Regions from separate parts of the Homo sapiens genome. Here regions 1, 3 and 4 are each linked to region 2. The links come from fine-mapping of genetic effects on gene expression. A gene starts in region 2. Each other region holds a variant in brackets. All regions are shown on one strand. Distances are from middle to middle.

What was found. PIP is the estimated chance that this variant, and not a neighbour inherited with it, causes the effect.
Region 1: its variant is the best candidate, but not a certain one, in a credible set for the expression of ATIC in whole blood (INTERVAL, PIP 0.75).
Region 3: its variant is the best candidate, but not a certain one, in a credible set for the expression of ATIC in activated naive CD4 T cells (Schmiedel 2018, PIP 0.84).
Region 4: its variant is the best candidate, but not a certain one, in a credible set for the expression of ATIC in monocytes (BLUEPRINT, PIP 0.54).

Annotation. Positions count from the first base shown.
Region 1 is chr2:215,399,885-215,405,938 of GRCh38, reverse strand. FN1 (fibronectin 1) reads left to right here. Exons shown (of 46, transcript NM_212482.4): 20 at 1,284-1,550. Among named protein-coding and RNA genes, the nearest start is that of FN1-DT, 33 kb to the left of the region's middle. The variant G/A (reference allele first, on the strand shown) is at 2,524.
Region 2 is chr2:215,309,696-215,315,749 of GRCh38, reverse strand. It overlaps ATIC (5-aminoimidazole-4-carboxamide ribonucleotide formyltransferase/IMP cyclohydrolase), which reads right to left and starts at 3,691. Exons shown (of 16, transcript NM_004044.7): 1 at 3,589-3,691; 2 at 3,126-3,252. The coding sequence starts at 3,607. It overlaps LOC124907975 (a long non-coding RNA gene), which reads left to right and starts at 3,778. Exons shown (of 2, transcript XR_007088075.1): 1 at 3,778-5,071. RefSeq lists silencers at 3,347-3,716, 3,727-3,806 and an enhancer at 3,337-3,987.
Region 3 is chr2:215,349,332-215,355,385 of GRCh38, reverse strand. ATIC (5-aminoimidazole-4-carboxamide ribonucleotide formyltransferase/IMP cyclohydrolase) reads right to left here. Exons shown (of 16, transcript NM_004044.7): 16 at 5,622-5,850. The coding sequence ends at 5,731. Among named protein-coding and RNA genes, the nearest start is that of ATIC, 40 kb to the right of the region's middle. The variant TC/C (reference allele first, on the strand shown) is at 2,801.
Region 4 is chr2:214,479,206-214,485,259 of GRCh38, reverse strand. All of the region lies in intron 3 of VWC2L (von Willebrand factor C domain containing 2 like), which reads right to left. Among named protein-coding and RNA genes, the nearest start is that of VWC2L-IT1, 28 kb to the left of the region's middle. The variant A/T (reference allele first, on the strand shown) is at 2,595.

The DNA.
Region 1 (6,054 bases), 90 kb before region 2:
TCTAGATCAAAGTTAAAATGCAGGATCATAACACTTAGAGTAGAATTCATTTAACAATAGCAATTGTCAAGTGTCTAGTATTACTAGCCACCAGCTTATCTGCTCAGTTTTTACAAGCATTATTCTCATATTTACTCTTTGTTTTGACCTTAGGAAGGAAGGTCTTATTATTATTATTTTATTTATTTATTTTTTTGAGATGGAGTCTCGCTCTGTCGCCAGGGCTGGAGTACAGTGGCACCATCTCAGCTCACTGGAACCTCTACCACCTGGGTTCAAGCAATTCTCCTGCCTCAGCCTCCCGAGTAGCTGGGACTACAGGCGTGTGCCACCATGCCCTGCTAATTTTTGTGTTTTTAGTAGAAATGGGTTTCGCTGTGTTGGCCAAGCTGGTCTGAAACTCCTGACCTCAAGTGATCCACCCACTTTGGCCTCCCAAAGTGCTGGGATTACAGGCGTGAGCCATCGTGCCCAGCCGGAAGGTCTTACTAGTATCCGTATTGAATACTTAAAGAAACTGAGGCTTTAAAAAAGTTCTGCAACTTGTAGGGTCACAGAGATAGGAAGGGATAGAGCTGGCTCTATAACCTATGTCCGAAGCCCATGCTCTCAATTATTATACTCGACTGCCTCTTAAAGATTTCCTCTATTTGAAAGGTAATTTAAATTTCGGTGGGAAAACTGCTGGTTATTATTCTCAAGAATAAACTCCACAACTTATGTGATTCTGATAGTGCAAACTCACCAGTATCCTACCATGAATCTGAGGATACGTTATCATTACTGTAATTACTGTCTAATCTGAACCATGTGAAAATAACTTTTATTTCTCTAGCAAAGGGCTATTCACAGAATATTGCTTTTGACCCATAGAGAGCTTCTTCTTGCTGTCATTTTAGGAGGCATATCCCTTTTTCCTTAATCTGTTTGGCTCAGAGCTAACTGTGAACTTCAGAAGTGTTTGTTTTGCCTTTTTAAAAATACCATTGCTTTAATGTAACTATAATTTCTGAGACTGATGCGAAAGTCTTGCTGGAAAATTAGACTTCCCAAAGGATCACAGTCAAGCAAAATGGTTCCACAATTTCTCATGACTGGCAGAGTTTTGGCAAAGTTTTGTGTAGCACTCAATCTCTTACTGGCTCAGTTTTTCCAGGGTTTTGACTTTCACATAGTTACAACCTTGAGGAGAGAAAACTTAGACATTCAATCAAGTTTCAGGACTTGAGTTATGATCATTACTGATCTAAATATTTCTTGGCATGTTTCATCTTTTTTCCTAGAACTGGATGCTCCCACTAACCTCCAGTTTGTCAATGAAACTGATTCTACTGTCCTGGTGAGATGGACTCCACCTCGGGCCCAGATAACAGGATACCGACTGACCGTGGGCCTTACCCGAAGAGGACAGCCCAGGCAGTACAATGTGGGTCCCTCTGTCTCCAAGTACCCACTGAGGAATCTGCAGCCTGCATCTGAGTACACCGTATCCCTCGTGGCCATAAAGGGCAACCAAGAGAGCCCCAAAGCCACTGGAGTCTTTACCACACGTAAGCTGAAAATTAAGTGCCTTTTCTTAACTATATTTACATTCTCTATTCTTCATGCTTTAAAACAAAACAAAACAAAACAAAAAAAACATTAAAAAATTAGTACATAATTTAAATCAGTGATACTAAAAATGTGCTCCATAGACTGGCTGCTGGCCCGTTAATTGTTTGCTGCTAGTCTGCAACAAGAAAAACGGTTGTGCCAGAACGTAAATCACAAAGCACACTGCTTAGTACAGCTGAGAATTTTTCTGAAGCCAGATTTTCTTGATGAAGGAAGCAGTGTGTTAATTTGCACACATTGCCAAGCTCGCTCTTTCCTCTAGGGCCAGCACTTTGAGTAACATGGGTTTAAAGCAGTCTGTTATTAGAAAAATTAAATTCGATTACATTAAATGAATTTACCAAACACTAGTTAACGCAAGAAAAAATTAGCACCTATGTCTACATTCTATTACTTTGGGCATTGAATAGTAACTATAAATGCAGAATAAAAATATCTATGGATTGAATGGGAACCAACTAATTGAACATGAAGCCAAGGAAATGATTTCTTTATGAGTGTTGGCTGCAGAAGATTAAAGTACTTTTGCAGACGGAATCGCTCTTTTCTTAAATTACTCTTGAAATTCCTCAGAGGAGAAAAATACTAACAATAATTTTTGGTCATGTCTATCCTTTTGCTCAACATTTTAAAGGAAGTGGTCTTAAATCTCCCACATATCTACATCACAATAACAACCTCTATTCACAAACCGATTCCTATTAAATACATTTCCATTTACATTACAGAGAATTATGAGACTCCTTATTTCTAGCTGAACATCATTTGTTATTTTCAACTCGACATTTTGAATTATAGAAGCACCTAACATAAGTACTTTTTCAGCATATATTCTAACCATGGACTAGTTTGCAATTTTCTAAGAGCTTTCAACAAATGTTACTCTTCGACTAATTTAAAAGTATGGAT[G/A]TTAAAAAGCATTCAAAAAGTCCATACAAGCCTAGTTTGTAAATAACTATGGAATTGATTTCCCAAAGAAAATACAAACTTTTCCCCATAAGAATTCATACTTTAAGAAAAACTTACTTCCATTTAAATTTACTGTATGAAGTTTGGCTCATGAAGGCTTTTTCCTAAATAATAGTTAATCGTAAGCAAGTAAAATTCACTTTTAATTTGCAAATAAGCTTACTTGAAAATTTGGCTAAAATTTTACACGGTTCTAAGATAGTCTAAGATCTACTCTCATGAAATTAATGTCTTTATATTTCTTGTAAATATTCATTTCTTATAAATGTCCTTCAGTGAATTAGAATGGAGATTTCAGTGAATGCGCCCTTTCAGTAGATGTCGTCTTTTACTAAAATGTAGAATTCTATAGTTGTCTTGTTCATTCCTTAACATGAGACATATTTTATGTAGTTTCTTTTGTTGAACACAGTGCTTATAAAAGAAAAAGCATTTTTAATGATGCTAACAATAATTAAGGGAAGGTGGTGGGCCAAGATATTTCAAGTACTTCTGAAGACTGATATATTGGATATATTATTTTATGCTTTGCATAATACATTCATATAAAATATAATGATTTTAACTGAAGTACTGATAGCCAAAACTAATTTTATTAGATAAAGGTTAACATAGTGTCTGGAACATTGTATGCTTTCAAAAACTATTTGGTGAATAGATAATTGAGAAAGGAATAATAATAAAAACAGCTAAATGAAGCTTATATTTAAATAAACTAATGTAAGCAGGGTATTCTACAACTCCATTTGAACTTTAAGCACTCCCTAAGGCTGTAAACATCCACAAGGCTTGCATGTTTTTGAAATTACTAAATTTCTGTAGTTTTTTACTATCTTACTAAGCTGAATTCTGGGAGTAACTTTTCTGAGTTTTATAACTTGTGCTAAATTCTTAAGAGCAAATGTGAGAAAAGTTAGGGGAAAAAGCTGTTTCTGGGGAAAATTCAGCTTAGTCTTATATTGATAGGGCAAATTTTATTTCTTTAACAGCTGGGCTGTTCTTCCCTAACAAGACCTGCCAGAACCCATAGCTCACACTTAGAATCACATCCTTTGTTTGACATCGTTTGTGGGTTTGTGGTTTGGTGATTTTCCCATAATGGCCTTCCCAGGCAGAGAGCATCATCTTAAACTTGGGAAGACTCTAGGTGGCTGGCTCAAGCAATAGAAAATACCTAGTCTTAAAGCCCAGGACAGTTGAGGCGAATATAATTTGTAAAAAAAGTTGTGGTTTTCACAGATGTTCAGTGAAAGAAACTGACTGTTCTCTGAATTGTTTTTTGTGGGCCATTAAAAATGGTCACACAGGGCTGGCCATGGCATTTTGGCACAGTCACCAGCAGTCAAGTGGTGTATAATTTCAGAGGTACTAAAAGGCATCGGGTCACCCATCCCAGTCATGTCCCCCCACCCCCCACCAAACACCATCAAAATAATAACATACATAGATGAAACAGCCCACTAAACCAGTAGTACCTCAATTCAGCCATTAGAGCTATCATTATGAAGTGGCCCACACATATATTTGGCTTTTTCTCACACAATATTTTTAAAATAAAAATAAAAAATGGCTCCTTAGAATCCAGACTGAAAAAAAAATGCGAGAATTGCGATGTTGATTCTAAATTCCCACATGGCAAAGAAAAAAAAATTGACTGGAGTTGAGTTGAGACTGGAGTCTGAACACTTTTTAATCCCTGTTTGTATAACTCTGGAGACTAATTCTTTGTCTTGCCAGCCATTCATAATTTAGTATAAATGCATTCAGAGGTTTTTTCCCAATGGGAACAAAATTTGATTGAGATGTAAAGAGAGGAAGAATTGTGGAGATGTCAAACATGTGACCAGAGCTATGAACACACTTGATACCCTTGAACTTAAACTTACCCAACTCAAAATATCTGGCCTTCTGCGATCTTACCTTTCTACATTTATAATAAGATTTGCAAGGTTGTTGGAAATCTCTATCTTAACTTTATATATACATGCCTCTTTCTTTCTTTTTCTTTCCTTTCCTTTCCCTTTCTTTCTTTCTCTTTCCTTCCTTCCTTCCTTTCTCTCTCTCTCTTTTCTTCCTTTCCTTTCCTTTCCTTCCTTTCTTTCTTCCTTTCTTTCTTTCTTTCTTTCTTTCTTTCTTTCTTTCTTTCTTTCTTTCTTTTCTTTCTTTCTCTCTCACTCTCTCTCTCTTTCTTTCTTTCTTATTTTTGGTGCTAAAACCCAAAACAAATCTTTTATTTAAAAATAAGATTTTTTTTTTTTTTGGCCAGGTGTGATGGCTCATGCCTGTAATTCCAGCACTTTGGGAGGCCGAGGTGGGTAGATCACCTAAGGTCAGGAGTTCGAGACTGGCCTGGCCAACATAGTGAAACCCCATCTTTACTAAAAATACAAAAATTAGCTGGATGTGGTGGTGGGCAACTGTAGTCCCAGCTACTTGGGAGTCTGAGGCAGGAGAATCACTTGAACCCAGGAGGCTGAGGTTACAGTGAGATGAGATTGCGCCACTGCACTCCAGCCTGGGTGACAGAGCAAGAGTCCATCTCAAAAAAAAAATTGTTTAAGTAAAATTTTATTTTCTTTCTTTTTTTTTTTTTTTTTTTTTTTTGAGATGGAGCCTTGCTCTCTCACCCTGGCTGGAGTGCAGTGGTGTGATCTTGGCTCACTGAAACCTCCATCTCCCAGGTTCAGGTGATTCTCCTGCCTCAGCTTCCCAAGCAGCTAGGATTACAGGCATCCACCATCACACCTGGCTAATTTTTATATTTTTAGCAGAGACAAGGTTTCACCATGTTGGCCAGGTTGGTCTTGAACTCCTGGCCTCAAGTGATTCACCTACATCAGCCTCCCAAAGTGCTGGGATTACAGGCATGAGCCACTGCGCCTGGCCAAAGTAATATTTTCAATAAGAAAAATAACAGTGATGTCAGGATGCTAGAAAATGCAAAATAAATTTGTTATAATTCCTGATTCTGGTGATAAAATACTAAATTTTTGCAGTATTATTCTGAAAGAATAATCACGTATTTAAAGTACAAATCTTTAGACTTCAAAGTGCATCCATGGTGGCAGATTTTGTTTAACTTTTATATAGCATCTTTTATTGCAACCAAAAATAGCTGACCATTATTGTGGAATAATTCAGCGTAAAGCTTTTTTTTTTTCTTTTTTTGAGACGGAGTCTCATTCTGTCACCCAGGCTGGAGTGCAATGGCATGATCTCGGCTCACTGCAACTTCTATCTCCAGGGTTCAAGCGATTCTTGTGTCTCAGCCTCCCAAGAAGCTGGGACTACAGGCATGAGCCACCATGACAGTTAATTTTTCATATTTTTAATAGAGACAGGGTTTCACCATGTTTGCCAGCCTGGTCTCGAACTCCTGACCTCAAGTGATCCACCCACCTCGGCTTCCCAAAGTGCTGGGATTACAGTCATGAGCCACCGATCCCCGCCCAGCATAAAGCTGTTTTTAGA
Region 2 (6,054 bases):
CAAACTCCTGACCTCAGATGATCCAGCAGCCTCAGCCTCCCAAAGTGCTGGGATTACAGGGGTGAGCCACTGCGCCCAGCCAGAACCAAGACCTTGTCCAGGCATGGTGGATCACACTTGTAATCCCAGCACTTTGGGAGGCCAAGGCAGGCAAAATTGCTTAAGCCCTAGAGTTCAAGACCAGACAGACAACATGGTGAAACCATCTCTATGAAAAATACAAAAATTAGTTGGGCATGCTGGTGTGCAGCTGTAGTCCCAGATACTCAGGAGGCTGAGGTGGAAGGATTGCCTCAGCCTGGGAGATCGAGGCTGCAATTAGCCATGATTGTGCCACTGCACTCCAGCCTGGGTGACAGAGTAAAACCCTCTAAAAAAATATATATATATAGCTTTCTCCTGCCCTCTTGCCTCTCACCCTTCATTCTTCCCTGAAGTCACAGAAATGAGAATTTCTCTTCCCCAGGGCAGTTTACAGAAACTAAAACTCTTTTTCCCCAAAGCCAGTCATAAGATTTAAACTTATGATTCTAACTTTCCACTGGCTTTCTGTCTAGGAGCTGGACGTAAAGAAATCCTCTCATCTCCTTGCCCATTAGTAGGTCAGGAGATCCTTAGGGGGTGGAGAAAGAATTTTAGAGAAGCCAAGAAGAATCTGGACAGACAGGCTTTCCTGGCTTTCTCCACCTCAGTCTACTAGCATACACCATATCCTTGCTGTCCAATCATACTTCCACCTTTCTGTCCATTCTTTGTTGAACCTAAACATAAAAATGGATGGTTTTTCCTCTGTCTTTGGGTCTTCATTCTGAAGGCTCTCATGTCATGTAAAACTTTGTTAAATAAATTTGTTATGCTTTTCTCTTATTATAACCTGTCTTCTCTTATAAAAATATTGGCCGTGACGTTTACGATGGAGAGCAAAGGATCACACCTTTCCACCCCTACAAAATCTTGGCCTCGGGTGCGGTGGCTCACACCTGTAATCCCAGCAGGCCAAGGCGGGCGATCACTTGAGGTCAGGAGTTCGAGATCAGCCTGGCCAACATGGTGAAACTCTGTCTCTACCAAAAATACAAAAAAATTAGCCAGGCGTGGTGGCGGGCGCCTGTAATCCTAGCTACTTGGGAGGCTGAGGCAGGAGAATCGTTTGAACCTGGGAGGCAGAGGTTGCAGTGAGCTGAGACAGTGCCATTGCACTCCAGCCTGAGCAACAAGAGTGAAACTCTATCTCAGAGAAAAAAAAAAAAAATCTTGGCCTCTTAACTAGCTGTGTAATCTCGAGCGAGTTACTTAACTACGTTGTGCTTAATTTCCTCACCTATAAAATGAGGATAACACTACCTAAACTAAAAAGTTGTTATAAGGACTATAAGAGTTTATATATGTAAAATACCACTGCAACTGAATAAAATACCACTGCAACTGAATGTGGCCTTTGTTGAAGAAAAAACAATTGCTCCAAGTTGTTTACATTTCATTCAGTGAACTTTACTGTGCTGGGGTCTAAATAAATCACTCATGGTGAACTTCTTATCCTTTCATAGAAGAGAAACACATTTACATTTCCAGTTTTTAAAGAAGATATGACCATAATGAAGATAAGTGAGGAGTGGGTATAGGTACAGAAACAAGACTAATCAGTTGATAAGTACCTAAAGTGGGTGACAGATATAGGACCCAAGGGATCATTATACTTTTCTACTTTTGATTGTGTCTGAAATGTTTCCATAATACAAAGTTTGGTGGGGAAAAAAAAGAGACTACAGATGAGGATTTTGCTTTACGAAGGTTCCATTACCATAGGAGGACCCAACTTGGCCCAATGGAAAGCACGCAGGTCTGGACTTTGAATTCTCATTCGGTTGCTGATGAGCAAAGAGCCAACTTGCCTGCCACGATTCTCACAGGTTTCCCATGAAAACCACAGAGACAAGACGCAAAAAGACATCCGAAAATATACAGTTATGTATTTGTTAATAAAGTAAGGCATTCTTACCATCTGAACTTGTTAAACTTAGGGAAGCTGTGTACTGCTCACATAGCTGGGAACTGCACAAAGAAAAGGTAATAACCTACCTCTACATGGATCTAGAAACCAAGAAGCAAATTTTCCACATGGCAACAAAAAGCAGACAGATATCCTTCATCTCTTTCATTCTAAAATATGTTTCAGGGGTGGTCATCTCGTTCCTCCCAACTCTCACTGCCGTTTATTAAATAGCTATCCTATAGTTTTTTTCATTTTTCTACCTTTCAGTAGACTTCCTCCCTCTCCTCCCAGAATGCCACTCCTTGACATCAGCAATGGCATCCTGGTTAATCATTTCTAAGTCCCTTCTTTCCATGGCCTAGTCAGCTAATGAAGGGCTTGTGAACGTGGGAATGAATGATTTGCACCTTCATATGGTTACCAGAGATTCTAAGGGAAGGCAGGTAAATTGGAATCTTCATGATGTCGAGTTTTATTAAATCACCAGTCAAAGTAACTGAAGTTTTCCTTGCATAACAAGTGGCCCACCTAAGTTAATCTGTTTAAGGAAGGGGCTAAGACTAGTGTCCTAAAATCAGGAACAGCACGGGTTCCAATCCTACTTTTCCCTTACTCAACTGTTTAAACTTGTGCAGAAGATGCTAAATCTGTCCAGTGTGTTGTCCAGGGTCTTTCTCTGTCACCCAGGATGGAGTGCAGTAGTGCCATCTCGGCTCACCACAACCTCCGCCTCCTAGGTTCAAGCGATTCTCCTGCCTCAGCCTTCCCAGTAGCTGGGATTACAGGCGTGTGCCACCATACCGGCTAATTTTTGTATTTTTAGTAGAGACGGGTTTCACCATGTTGGCCAGGCTGGTCTCGAACTCTTGACCGTAAGTGATCAGCCCACCTCGGCCTCCCAAAGTGCTGGGATTACATGCGTGAGCCACCTAGCCCAGCCGTCCAGGGTCTTAAAAGTTGCTAAATCTCTCTGAGCCTCACTTTTTTTCCCCATAAAGTGGGGAAGTATTACACCAACCTCACAGCGCTACTGGGAGGAGTAAATAAGGCGTTTTGCTGCTGGTGCCTGGAATACAATACTTCCTGGTTAATGTGATCACACTCCTTTCTGATGGAACTAGCTATGCCTTACCTGACTGCCAGACCAGCATCCCTGAGAGCTTTTGCAGTCCCTCCGGAAGCGACCAGATTCAAACCAAGAGCGGTCAGGTTTCTTGCAAATTCCACAAGGCCGGTTTTGTCAGAGACACTAAATAAGGCTGAAAGAGAAGACATTTTTTCTCATGATTCGCAGCACATTGCACTGTGTTCTGCAAGGCCTTGGGAGGGTCTGGGGGAGGAGATTCTCGAATCGCAAGGCCAGCACCTGGACCCTGCGTTCGCAGGCCTGGTCCGGGCCTCCCCAGGTCTTACACCCGCGAGCTGCTCTAAGGCGGGCCCCACGCAGGCTGCGGCCCGGCCGGGGAGCGGGGACGCTGGCTTTCAATCCCGCAGCGCCGCCCCTGCAGTGCCGGGTCCCGCCGGCCGCCGCCAAGGCGGGAGCGTGGGGGGCCGCAGGCGAGGACGCAGACCGCGCCGCTCCGCTAGGGCCTCACCGAGCTGGCCGGGAGCCATGGCTGCAGGCACTGGGTTCAGGGCGAGCGGGAGGCAGCAGCGGCGGCACCACGTGCGCAGGTAGGAGGGCTGCCGGGATGTGGCGGCTCAGGAAGCGAGGGGGCGGAGCTGTTTCCGGGCTTATCACGTGGCCCGCCGGCCCTGCCCGGCGCCCTGCTCTGCTCAGTTTCAGATGCAAGATCCGCGCCCCGGGGCTGAAGGGAACGGCGGGATGGGGTGGGGCTCTGCCTGGCGCGCCTGGGCGGAGTGCTTGGGCTGGAAGGGATCCTGCCTGCGATCCCGAAGTCCAGGCGTGGGAGCCAGCGATCTGCCCACGACCCCAAAGTGAGGCCACTCCACGGCCTCTGGGGCAAATGCCTGTTATTCTAGGCAGCCGGTCCCCAGAAGCTGGAAAGTACGTAAAAGTGCCAGAAGCTCCCATGCTGAAAACTAAACAAAAGGAATAGTTCATATAGCGGCAAAGCTGGAAAGTATCTGGACAGTTATCTACCATCCTCCCTTTTTGTTTGTTGTTTTTTTGTTTTTCTGGGTTTTTTTGTTTTTTTTGTTTTTTTTTTTTTTTTTTGAGATGGAGTTTCGCTTTTGTTGCCCAGGCTGGAGTGCAATGGCGCGATCTCGGCTATGTCACGTGCAACCTGCAACCTCCACATCCCGGGTTCAAGAGTTTATCCTGCCTCAGCCTCCCGAGTAGCTGGAATTATAGGCAGGCGCCACGATGCCCGGCTAATTTTTGTATTTTTAGTAGACATGGGGTTTCGCCATGTTGGCCAAGCTGGTCTCAAACTCCTGACCTCAGGTGATCCGCCTGCCTCGGCTTCCCAAAGTGCTGGGATTACAGGGGTGAGCCACCATGCCCAACTTGTTTTTTGTTTGTTTGCTTGCTTGCTTGTTTGCTTGTTTGTTTTGAGACAGGGTCTCGCTCTGTCTCCCAGACTGGAGAGCAGTGGCACCATCTCAGCTCACTGCAACCTCTGCCTCCCAGGTTCAAGAAATTCTCCTGCCTCTGCCTCCACACCCGTCTAATTTTTTGTTGTTGTTGTACTTTTTTTTTTTTTTTTTTGTATATTTAGTAGAGATGGGGTTTCACGGTGTTGGCCAGGCCGGTCTTCAACTCCTGACCTCAAATGATCTGTCCACCTCAGCCTCCCAAAGTGCTGGGATTACAGGTGTGAGCCACCGTGCCCGGCCCCATCCTCCTTTTTAATAGGCTTAAAAAATAAAACCAAGGACCAATGATTTAAGTGAGGGACTCCAGAGGCCACAGATGACAGTCAAAACGAAGTGAAATTGACATTCGTTGTTGATTTTCACGTCATAAAATTATAATTTAAATATTAATTTATAATACTATTTTATACAATTTAGTCAGTATTGTAAAAGTGCCTAAAAACTACTTAAAGATGGTGTCTTCTTGCAAACCTGTAAATATTCCTGGATGAGAGGAATGATGACAGTCAAAAGAAGGTAAGAGAAGACCTTTCTTAATTCATTAAAAACAGGGAAAGCAAAATTGAACACATTTGTTTCTTTCTAAAAATGACACCTTTGCCACAAAATAAATACATATTGTGGTCTATGAGTCTTTTTTGTGTTATTAGAATTATATTCCAAAGTAATAGCATTGTTTATCTTTTAGTCTGAGCTCACAGCTGTAAAAATGAGTCTATTTTCTCATTATCTGCATGCTATTTATTTTTGTTTTTCCTCTTCCTTTCTCTAATTCTTCCCATCTCTTTACTCCCCAAAATAAATACCTATTGACTAGAATCAATTTTTTTTTTTTTTTTTGAGACAGAGTCTCGCTCTGTCACCCACACTCTCGCTCTGTCACCCACACTGGAGTGCAGTAGCGCGATCTCGGCTCACTGCAACCTCTGCCTCCCAGGTTCAAGCGATTCTCCTGCCTCAGCCTCCCGAGTATCTGGCACTACAGGCGCGTGCCACCATGCCTGGCTAATTTTTGTATTTTTAGTAGAGATGGGGTTTCGCCATGTTGGCCACGCTGGTCTCGAACTCCTGACCTCAGGTGATCCACCTGCCTTGGCCTCCCAAAGGGCTGGGATTGCAGGCGTGAGCCACCGCGTCCAGCCTGGAATCAATTTTTTGACCTCTAAATATGTTAGCCCTTTGCTCTGAACACTTCTCACATTCCTACGAGGAATATATTAAGATTATCGCATGTCTTCAGTGTGTTTGCCAAATTTGAATTTAAAAAGGATATTTCCTTGGCCAGTCACCATCAGGTTTTTACAGGAAATCGAAAGCAAGGAAAGGAGAAAACAATGCTGACATTTATTGATAAGGGGAAATAAACAGTTGCTTCGGCATTATGCATTTGTCTGTCATGTGAATTACAAATATTTATTCGATTCAATACATTTTTATTGAGCCTTTTCTGCTTGGATGGCAGAAACTCAGTGTCAGAAGACAGATAAATATCACCTAAG
Region 3 (6,054 bases), 40 kb before region 2:
CATTATGGATCTTCTGTCCTTCTGCTGGAAACAACAGACATAAGATCATTATGCATTTCACTTAAACACCAGTGAAACTCCACTCTTGACGTTTCGAATGATTGAATTATACTAGACATATATATGTTAATGGGGTTCCAGTGCCAGACCCTCCCAAAGTGCTCAACTTCCTTGGTTACTGGCTACCTCCACCAAGATTAACTTGAGTACATATAAAGGAAAACACCACCTCACAGAGCAAAATATGAGGAACCCAGGAGTAAGCTTGCATGTGAGGGGTGGCACTTTGGCTTAAGGCAGGACACTGCTTTTTTTGGCATAACACAGGGAAGTGAGACAGTAAAATGAGAAAGGAGCTGTTGACAGCCCTAAACTGAGTCGTTTTCCAGAGTGAAGAATGGTTGCTCTTATTGCTTGGGTGCTCCTCCCCGGGGTTCATTCAATCCTGTCCTTCATGAACCCCTTGGGGCTGGCGAGGAGTGCATCAGCTGGGCTGTCTCAAGCACACGCTGCTGGGTAGCCAATGTTAGTCAGGGAAAATGAGCTCACAGGCCAACATACCACAACACTTGAGTAAAGAGACTTTAAAAGAATAGTAACATACTAGATTACAGATCCTAACAGAAGTAGAAATAGTAAAACAAAGCTAGAAAGATGATACCAACAATTGGAAAAGAAAACCAGAAATATTTGAAGGGAAAAATAAAACTCCTGAAATAAAGGGCTCAATAGACAGGACACACAGCAGAATGGATACATTGTAGGAATTCATGAGAAAATTAGAAGACCAGACTAAAGAAATCTCCTGGAGGGACGAATAAAGAAAATGAAATATAAAATATAAAAGAAAGGCTAAGAGATATAGGAATTGCTTAGAAATGCTAACATTTGGATAAAAAACAGAAGAAATGGGAGAGAGGAAATATTAGCACAAAGAACAGAAATAAATTTCCTAGAATGAAAAACCCAGAGTGCCAACAAAGGGAAATACAAATAACACCCACACCTAAACACATTATAGAAGCTTGAAAATACCCAGGAAAAAATTAGTTTCCTGAGAAGGCATGGTGGCTCACACCTGTAATCCCAGCACTTTGGGAGGCTGAGGCGGGTAAATCACCTGAGGCCAGGAGTTCAAGACCAGCCTGGACAACATGGTGAAACCCTCATCTCTACTAAAAATACAAAAATTGGCCGGGTGTGGTGGTGCACACCTGTGGTCCCCAGCTACTCGGGAGGCTGAGGCATGAGAATCGCTTGAACCATGGAGGCAGAGGCTGTGGTGAGTGGAGATCACACCACTGCACTCCAGCCTGGGCATCGGCAACAGGGAACGACTCTGTCTCAAAAAAAAAGTTTCCTGACAAGGAACAAGAACCAGATTGACATCAGATTTTAAATAAACAATGGATGCAATAAAAAACCAAACAGTGTTTTCAAAGTATTAAAGAATTTAAAACCCAGAATTGTAAGCATAGCCAAAATGAATTCAAATATACAAGCATGATAAAAATATCCTTAGTTGGCCAGGTGCAGTGGCTCATGCCTGTAATCCCAGCACTTTGGAAGGCCGAGGCGGGCAGATCACTTGAGGTCAGGAGTTCGAGACCAGCCTGGCTAACATTCTGAAACCCCATCTCTACTAAAAGTACAAAAATTAGCTGGGTGTGGTGGCGTGCACCTATAATCCCAGCTACTCAAGAGGTTGAGGCAGGAGAATCAATTGAACCTGGGAGGTGGAGGTTGCAGTGAGCTGAGAGCATGCCATTGCACTCCAGCCTGGGCCACATGAATGAAAATCTGTCTCAAAAAACAAAACAACAACAACAACAACAAAACCTTAGACATGTAAGATCTCAGAAGCTTCATCACACAGACACTGCACACAGTTAACACAAGAGGAGAAACTGGAGGCACTGCAATAGATAGATGAAGTGAAGGTAAACACAAACCTTAGAAAGTCTGGTCTTAAAAAATAGGCTAAGTGAAAATGTGACCCCAAGTCCAGGAATCAACAGGAGTTTGGAATGGGGTGGGGTAGGTAGGGGTGATGGGGGAGAAACTGGGAGTTAAAGCTTTTAGCTTATTAGGGGGGAAATACAACCGTACATTCAAAACAATGTCAAGGAAGGAAATAAAAGTGGGTCAAACTTTACAGGATAGTAAAAATAGGCCTCAAATGTATCAATAATTGAATACAAATAGGCTGAGCGCAAAGGGAAAGGTTCACAAAATGCATTAAAGAAAACTCAAAACCAAAAGCAATAATAACTTTAAACATGGTCCGTGTTTTTAACCTCAAATATATAGGAAGTGAACATTTATAAACCTGCAGGAAGAAATTGGAAAACTCATCCTCATGGAGGGAAGTCTCAAAACCTTTTTCTAAATTCTCAACAAATCAAACTAAAAAAATTTACATAACTACGGCTATCAATGTGTAAGAAAGGAGCAGAGGCACAAATTAAACGACATCACAGGAATGCAAGGGCACAGCCCAGCACGTGGGAACTATGAGACCAAAAATCTTCAGTCAATCGACTGCAAGAAAAAAATCTAAAGAGGAGAAACCAGGTGTTGAAGATACTTGAGACATGCCAATCAAATGCAATGATGTACCAGGCTTGGGTTGCACAATCAAAAAACTGAAAGAAAAAAAAAATTAGCCATTGGGAGAGATCTAAAGGTGACTGGGTATTTGATATTCAAAATGACTTATCCTTTTAGTATGATACTTGAATGTGGTTATATACTTTTTAAAATAGGCTTTTTATTTTCTAATAGTTTAATTTTTTTTTTT[TC/C]TTGAGATGGAGTCTTGCTCTGTTGCCCAGGCTGAAGTGCAGTGGAGTGATCTCAGCTCACTGCAAGCTCTGCCTCCCAGGTTCAAGCAATTCTCCTGCCTCAGCCTCCCAAGTAGGTGGAATTACAGGCAGACACCACCACACCTGGCTAATTTTTGTAATTTTAGTAGAGACGGGGTTTCACTATGTTGGCCAGGCTGGTCTCGAACTCCTGACCTCAGGTGATCCACCCACCTCGGCCTCCCAAAGTGCTGGGATTACAGGTGTGAACCACCATGCCCGGCCTATTTTCTGAGTTTTAGATTTATAGAAAAAATTGTGAGGATACATCACACCTAATTTCCCCTTTTATTAGTATTTTACATTAGCATGGTACATTTATTACAATTAGTGAACCAATATTGATACATATTAACTAAACACTTTAGATTTTCTTAGTTTTTACCTAATGTCCTTTTTTTGTTCCAGGATGCTATCCAGGACACCACACTGCATTTACTCACCACATCTCCTTAGGCCCTTCTAGGCATGAAAGTTTCTCATGCTTCTCTTTTTGATGATCTTGACAGTAGGAAGGTATTTTGTAAAGTCCTTCGGCTAGGTTATATCTGATGTTTTTCTCATGATTAAGCTGAGAGTACAGGGTTTTGGAAAGAAGACCAAAAAGGTAAAGTGCTATTCTCCTATTTTGAGGTATTTCCTAGCAACATGACACTATTGACGTTGACCTTGATCATCTGGCTGAGAAAGTGTCAGTTTTCTCCACTGTAGTTACTATTTTATTCCCATTTCTATACTCTCCTCTTTGAAAGCAAGTCACTGTGTACAGGCCACACTTAAGGACTGGGAGTTATACCCCTCAGTAGAGTATTGATGTAAATTACCTAGAATTCTTCTGCATGGGAGTTGCATATTCTCCACTTATTTATTCTTCATCTATGTGAAGAATACTACAAACAGGAGCCACCATGCCCAGCTAATTAAAATTTTCTCTTTTTTTAGAGATGAGGATGTCGCTATGTTGCCCAGGCTGGTCTTGAACTCCTGGCCTCAAGCAATCCTCCCAAAGTGCTGGGATTATAGACAGGAGACACAGTGCTCAGCCTGTTCCCATTATCATACCCTTAATGTTAACCTTTGGTCAAGCCAAAGAACCATGAAAAAGACAACACACACTTAATTTACAAGCCAAAATCTGTATTAGCTATTTACTGCTACATAATTACCCCAGAACTTTGTGGCTTAACAACAGTATGCATCTCTCTGTATCTGTGGGTCAGGAATTCAAGAGCTCTTTTGGGCAGTTCTGGCTCAGGTCTCTGAAGAGGTTGAAGCCAGATGTTGCCTGGGACTGAAGCTGGAGGATCCACCTCTGAGATGGCTCACTCATGTGGCTGGCAACTAGTGTAAGCAAGATGGCGTCTCTCCTTGTGGAGGGCTGCTTAACTCTTACAACGTGGTCTTGGCTTATCCCAGAGGAAGTAATCCAAGAAACTAAGGCTGAAGTTGCAATGTATTAGGACCTAGCCTCAAAAGTCTTATTTTTTCTGCAGTATTTTACTGATCACACAAGTCAGCCTTGTTTCAATGTGGGCAGGTCCTAGGCCAGGGCTGGAAGATTAGCTTAACCAGAAATAACTTAGAAAGATGACCATTAAGAAAAAACTTCAGAAATTTTTATTTAGCAAGGGGATAAGTTAAAGACTTGGGAAGAGGGTAGGACTCATTGGTAAAGGTGAACAATGGCAAAGGGTTTTAGTTGAACACAGGTGCAATGCACGGGAATGGTCAGGAGCACACAGGCAGGACACACAGATGCACAGGTCTGTCCTGATGAAGGAAGGCACTGCCCTCCCACTGTGCCCACTGTAGTGATTAAGCCTGTAATTGGAATATTGGGTACAATTTCTGAGCACCAAATATTGACTACATTTTTATGCAGCTCCAGAGGGTGAATCTCGGGCTGCTGAAATTCTGGGAAACATTTCACTTAGCACTGAGAAAAATATACATCAGATTATCCATAGAGGGGGTCAACAAGACTTAAACCAATCCCCTCTAAGGTTCCAGTTCACAGGTGCCAATCTGCTGTTTGTTTGGAAAGTAGACAACCAAGCTTCTCAGAAGTGTGATTAAAAATAAATGGCATGAGGGCCGGGCACGGTGGCTCACGCCCGTAATCCCAGCACTTTGGGAGGCCAGGGCGGGTGGATCATGAGGTCAAGAGTTCGAGACCAGCCTGACCAACATGGTGAAACCCTGTCTCTACTAAATACAAAAATTAGCCAGGCATGGTGGCACATGCCTGTAGTCCCAGCTACTCAGGAGACTGAGGCAGGAGAATCGCTTGAACCCGGGAGGCGGAGGTTGCAGTGAGCCAAGACGGTGCCACGGACTCTAGCCTGAGTGACAGAGCTATTTTTTTGAGACTCCCTCTCAAAATAACAAATTAAAAAAATGAAAAACAAACAAACAAAAACGGCATGAGAAGACTCCCCTAGGAGGCAACATGGACCTTTAATATACAACTCCCATGCAGAAGAATTCTAGGTAATTTACATCAATACTCCACCTTTAAGATGGGTATAACTCCCAGTCCTTAAGTGTGGCCTGTACACAGTGACTTGTGCCATGTCCTCTGGCTGCTCAGCTCGTTTGGTTCCTGCTAATGTTTATGTTTCACACGGGCAGTGCTGTGGGATGGGCTGAGCTCCGGTAGGCAGGGGTGCTCTGGAATTCCTCATTTATGTGTTATGTGTCATGTGTCAGTTCAAAGAGCCTGCATCTTTAACATAAAACACAACTACCAAAAACTATGGATCCAGTGATTAAGAGATACTGTTTTATTTTTTTAAAAAGTTATCCTCAAAGTTTCAGGCGTGACTGTTCACCTACACATAAGCAAGCCAAAAAACAGTGTGTGGTAAAATCAGTGGTGGAAGAGCCGAAGGTTCGTATGAGCGAGGATGATTCCCAGTTCGTCGCAGGCCTCAATCACAACTTTGTCAGCAGCAGAACCGGAGGGAGCCGCAATGTACGCCACACCACTCTGGGGGAAGTATATTGATTTTCAAAACGCGATTTTATGTAAAAACCTGCAAAACTCAAAATCCCCCTCTAAAAAGCATATGCTAACAAAGATACACTCAGTCAAAAAGGCAAAATAACAACAGGATTTGGGTTCTCCATCCACCCAATGGAGAAGTCAAATGGTTCTCTGAATATTACTGATCTGTATCACTTTGCCACACCT
Region 4 (6,054 bases), 830 kb after region 2:
GCAACCTCTGCCTCCTAGGTTCGAGAGATTCTCCTGACTCCGCCACCTGAGTAGTGGGACTACAGGCATGCACCACCATGCCCAGCTAATTTTTTTTGTATTTTTAGTAGAGATGGGGTTTCACCATGTTGGTCAGGCTGGTCTCAAACTCCTGACCTCAAATGATCCACCTGCCTCAACCTCCCAAAGTGCTGGGATTATAGGCATGAGCCACTGCACCCGGCCAGATACAGACTTCTAAAGGTAAGAAGTGTTTATTCTTCACGTCTCAGTTTCAAACAGGTCCTTAATAATTTTCATGATGATACATTTTCATGATGATACATTTCCATGCTCTGGAAATACAGATGAGCTCAGAAAAGGTACTGCCTAAAAGCTCATTGGTATGGAATTTTGATATCAACATTATCATGATGCCAAGAACTTGTGAGAACATTTAGCTTGCAAAGGCCAAATTAAATTAAGGAAAATATTACACAAATGTTATCATGTTGCTTCACTTTTTACCATGTCTTAGGCAACCTTTTCAAAGGACTTTAAAATAAAACATGGTAGAAATAAATAAAATGTTTGAGCTTTAAAAACTTCATTGATTTCTGCCCGATGCCATATCTTAAAATTGAGCCCATAAAGAGGCCTAAGAGAAACTTCCTGTCTCTCTAACTAAGCTACCTAACAGGAGATGATTTTCCATTGTTCTGCCGTATGATCACTGCTTCAGCCAGCTGGGTGGTAAGTGTATGCCATTGTTCATAGGGGAAATTGGGAGAGCTGAAACTGAATACATGAGGGAACCACTAGTGGCTAGAGTTTGGCAGTCCCCCAGAGAACATCTAGTTCAAAGCCCTTCCTTTTAAGGCAAGGTACCGAGGCCTGGAGCCGTCAAGTGAGTTGCCCAGTGTCACACAATTAGGTAGTGGCAAATCTTGGGAAAGAATTCAGACTAGTTGATTTTCTTCCTAGCATCCTTGTACTGTACTGAATCTTGTACTCCCCCAAATTTGTCCATTCAGCACCTCAAAATGTGACCTTACTTGGAAATGAGGTCTTAGCAGATAATAGTTAGATGAGGTCATATTGGATTAGAGTGGGCCCTAATCCAGTAACTGGTGTCCTTATTAAAAGGAAAAGCAGACACGCAGGCGCATAGGGGAGCAGGCCATGTGAAGATGCAGGCAGAGATTGGAGTGATGCAAGCCAAGGAATCTGCAAGCCAAGGAACACCAAAGATTGCCAGCGATTGCCAGAAACTAGAAGCAGCAAGGAAGCATTCTTCTCTAGAGTTTCTGGAGGGAAGATGGCCCTTGCAACACCTTCATTTGAGACTTCCATCTTCCAAAACCGTTAGAGAATAAATGTTCTGTGGTTTCAAGCCACTCAGTTCATGGTACCTTGATATGGCAGCCCTAGAAAACCAATCCAATCCCTTCTGCTTCACCATGGCTTGTCTTGTGCAGCCCCATCCCTCGATCAAAAGCCCAAGTATCCCACCTCTGCCAGCAGGTTAAGAGTCTCATTCTCAAACGTGAATGGCAGCATTTTAATACATAAATCAAACGGCTTTCCTACTGACAAGCACACGTACTGTTATTTTTGTTCTAATTAGCTGTAAGTCACCTTAAATCTCATCACAGGAAGCAGTGATCTATTTAAGTTGAATGTAAACGTATTGCTGTTTTCCAAGGTGTTGTGGGTCTTGAAATCCATAATTGATAAAAGAGAACAGATTTTTGGAGGTCAGAAGGAGAGAAATACTGATATTCTGGGTACCAACTCACCAAATAATTGAAGACTTGACTGTCACACTGCAGTTTTCAAAATCTTTGAAATTCCTTTTTTTTTTTGCTTTTGCCAGATACATTATTCTAATTTTTATCATGCTAATTGAAGTTGAAAGCCTAACAGAAAAAAAAATAGTTAAGCCATTAACTCAGATTATTGTATTATGGCTTATCAGAGTCTATTTGCCTGCTCTCCATCTATTTGCCATCATGGACATTGTAGTGGTAGCTGGTACTCTTAGTTTGCACTCCATCTAGGCCAGACAGTAGTAAGGTGTAGGGCTGAAAACTCAGGCTCTGTGACCAGAAATGCTAGTTTCAACTGAAGTACTTAGGTTCTGTTTACATGACATGCTAAACAACCAGTCAATTAGAATGTCACATTTCAAGCCTCCTCATTCATATGATAGGGATATTAGCAGAAGGAGAGTATATTGATTGCAAGCTCACTGCCTGCAAACTGCTGCTGGTGGTCAAAGGAGAGGGAGGAAGGGGTAGCTGCTTTGCTACCAGGAATGGGTTGAGAGACTGCACACAAGTACTCTTAGAACAAATGGTCTTTTGACACTTCTGCCCCGCCCCCTCGAATGGGGCAGATGCTCAGAATCCAGGACAATAGGTCTTAGGGAGAAATAGGGGGAAAAATTCAAACATCAAACTGGCTATCAAGTAGACTGAAATTGATGTTAAATAAACCTTATTATTATTATTTTTTTGAGATGCAGTTTCACTGTGTTGCCCAGGCTAAACAGCCTCCCAAGTAGCTGGGATTATAGGTGTTATACCACAGTGCCTGGCCATTAAAGAAAAAAA[A/T]ATATATATATATATATTTATTTATTAACTTTTAATATTAAATTTTTTTCTCTCTCTTCAAACTGGTAAATATATATATTTGTTTACCAGTTTGGAGAGATATATATATATATGTGTGTGTGTGTGTGTATATATATAGATACACACATATACATACACACATATATATACATACATACATACATACACGTATATATGTGTGTATGTGTATATATATATTTTACCAGTTTGGAGAGACAGAAAAAATTTTCTCCATGCTGGTACTGGGGTCAGTAATGGAAAGGATGGTTCACAGGCTCAAGAAGGCATTATGAGGGAGGAGGAATTGAGTAGCGTGTTTTAGGAGGAAGCTTGTTGCTTTACATTTTCTTTATCCACATTAGAATTATTAAAAATCTTTTTTCTGCATACTATCAGATGCTATTGGTGAGCACCGAAGAGCATGAAGGCCTATGGCAAATAACACTTTTCTTAAGGTTGTGAGTACATAGACTCCTATTTGGTTTTTAGACCTATTGCGACTGTTCATTTTAGTTATTCTGCCATGTTTAGTGTGGCTGCATTTATTTTCGTATATTTTTGCCAATGTTTCAATCATCAGTATCCCAGATCATGATACTGTCTGCCTTAGTGGAATATGTGCTTTAAAATCAGGGGTTGGTTTGCTTTGAGCAATATTTTATTTTCTCCGTTAATTGCATTGTCTTCCTTGTATTGAACATTTCTTTTCCCCTGTTAACTAAGAACATTTACAAAATTATACTAGGCACCAGTATCTGGGAAGTGGCATCTTAAATGAACACAAACCTTTCTGTTATTTTTATTTTCAAGAATACAATAAAGTATTTGTGATGTCTTCAAAAGAGCAAACTTGATGGGATCAATGCTATCATATTACAAAATTAGAATGTAAGTCAATATTTCAGTATTTGTAATGCAGCTTAACATCAGGACTATAGAATTTGTGTAAAATTTAAAAACCAGCATCTTTAGGTACATCAGATGTCAAACTATTATTTGTGGTTACTTAAAAATATATCCATGTATCAGTTGTGTATTGCTGTATAACCACACCAAATCTTGCTGGGTTTAAACAACAATGATTAGTTCTTTCTCATAGTTCTGGGGGTTGACTGGACAGTTATTCTTTTGGTCTTTTTTGAGCTCACTCACAAGGCTTCAGTCAGCTGTCAGCTCAGACCTAAAGAGCTCAGATTTCAAGAACATCTAAAAATAGCCTCATTCACGAGTCTGAGATCCCAGTCCTAGCTGTCAGCTGAGCCTTTTTCTCCACATAGTCTCTCATAATTCAGTAGTCTAGCCTGGACTTCCTTACATAATGGTAGGAGTGTTGCAAGATGATGAAAACAGAAGCTGTAAGATCTGTTAAGGCTTAGCCTCAGAAGCCTCCCAACATCATTTCTGCTGCAATCTATTTGTCAAAGCAATTCATAGCCAGCCCAGTTTTGGGGAGTGGAGAAATCGACTCCACCTCTGTTTAATGGGAAAAGCAGAGTCACATTGAAAAGGGAGGTAGACAGAGAAGGACATTGGTGTTATTATGGTGAATCCCTATTGCCATTTTCTAAGCTGATTTTTTTTCTTTGGAGGTTTGCATTTCTCTGCCCCTACAGTCTTCTTCCCACTTAGCTCAGTACTTTAGCTCAGTTTGGCTTTAGGTTATAATAGTAAACAAATCACTTCATCTTTTGCAGCAGAGATTACTAGTTGTCCTCCAAAATCCATTCTTTCTTTCTTCATCAGAAATACATCTACCTTTTTTTTTTTTTTTTTTTTTTTTGGCTTGGCATATGGACCTCTGAATAAAGAAGACTTTTTCAGCCTTTTATTCTGTTAGGTGTGGTCATGGGACTGATTTCTGTCCAGGGGGATGTAGACAAATGGGATGTACTTTAAGGAAGGGAGTGTGCCTATTTTCCAAGCTCCTTCCTGGAGCTTGGAGTGCAGATGTAATAACTCATGTTCCAGTAGCCATCTTGGATCATGAAGTTATCCCCAGAATGAAAACCATGTCTAGTGGACTAATAAGATGAAAGGAGCCTGGGTCCCTGACACCAAGAAGTGCTACACTAGCCCTGGACTGATTTATTCTAGATTTCTTGAATGTGCAAGAGATAGATATTTCTAAACTGAGCGTGATTCTTTGGGCTTTTCTAATATTCGCAGATGAACCTGAATGCTAACATATCTCCTTTCATTTTACAATTAGAGAGCCATTCTGAATGTATTGAATCCATATCAAGTAATTGTCCATTCATCTTCCAATATCATGCAGACATGGAAACTTAATCATCTTTGCTTTTAGTCAACCATAACTTTAAAACATATCACAAACATCTGGGACTTTAGGTTTTTTCTAGTTTTGTTAATTCACATTATCTCTTTTATTACCATACAATATCAGGAATTAGTAAGAATTTTTTAAAAATTCATTTGCCCTTTAGTATACACAGGGCATTAGTTCCAGAATCCCCAAGGATATAAAAATCTGCAGATGCTCAAGTGCTTATGTGAAATGGTATACGTAATATTTGCATATAGCCTACTCACATCCTCCCATATACTTTAAATAATCTCTATATTACTTATAATATGTAATACAACGTAAATTCTGTGTAAGTAGTTGTTATACTACATTATTTAGAAAGTAATTACAAGAAAAAAGTCTGTACATGTTCATTAATGACACAACCATCCTAGGATTAACTACATTTTCAATCATCATTGGTTGAATCCATGGATGCGGAACCACAGATAGAGAGGGCCAAGTGCAGTGAAGTATTAAAAACTAATACAATCTTATTAGATTGAATGTTCTTTCTTCTTGCTCTATATCCAGATTATTATTATTTTGAGACAGAGTCTCACTCTTCTTGCTCAGGCTGGAGGGCAATGGCACGATCTCAGCTCACTGCGGATTCAAGCGATTCTCCTACCTCAGCCTCCTGAATAGCTGGGATTACAGGCACCCGCCACCATACCCAGCTAATTTTTATATTTTTAGTAGAGATGGGGTTTCATCATGTTGGCCAGGCTGGTCTTGAACGCTTGACCTCAGGTGATCCGCCTGCCTCAGCCTCCCAAACTGCTGGGATAACAGGCGTAAGCTACCATGCCTGGTTCAGATTATTTTTAAAAATTTAGGAACAGTCAATTCCTTGAGAAAGTGGACCTGTTAGTAGATTTTATATTTTGATTGCTTCTTTTTGATGGGTACAAAAAGAGATAAAAATTCAAAGTTTTATAGTCCAAAAGTCCAACAACAGGGCACAAATAGATAAATAGGGAGAATAAATGAAGTAAAAATTTTGTGGTCATTAAAAAGATAAACACTATGACTATCAAAAAATAAGATATTTTTATGGAAAGGATTGTCCATTTACCATGAATATACCTGTAAAAGATATTAGGATGGGAAGTTTGCTTCATCATTTATAAA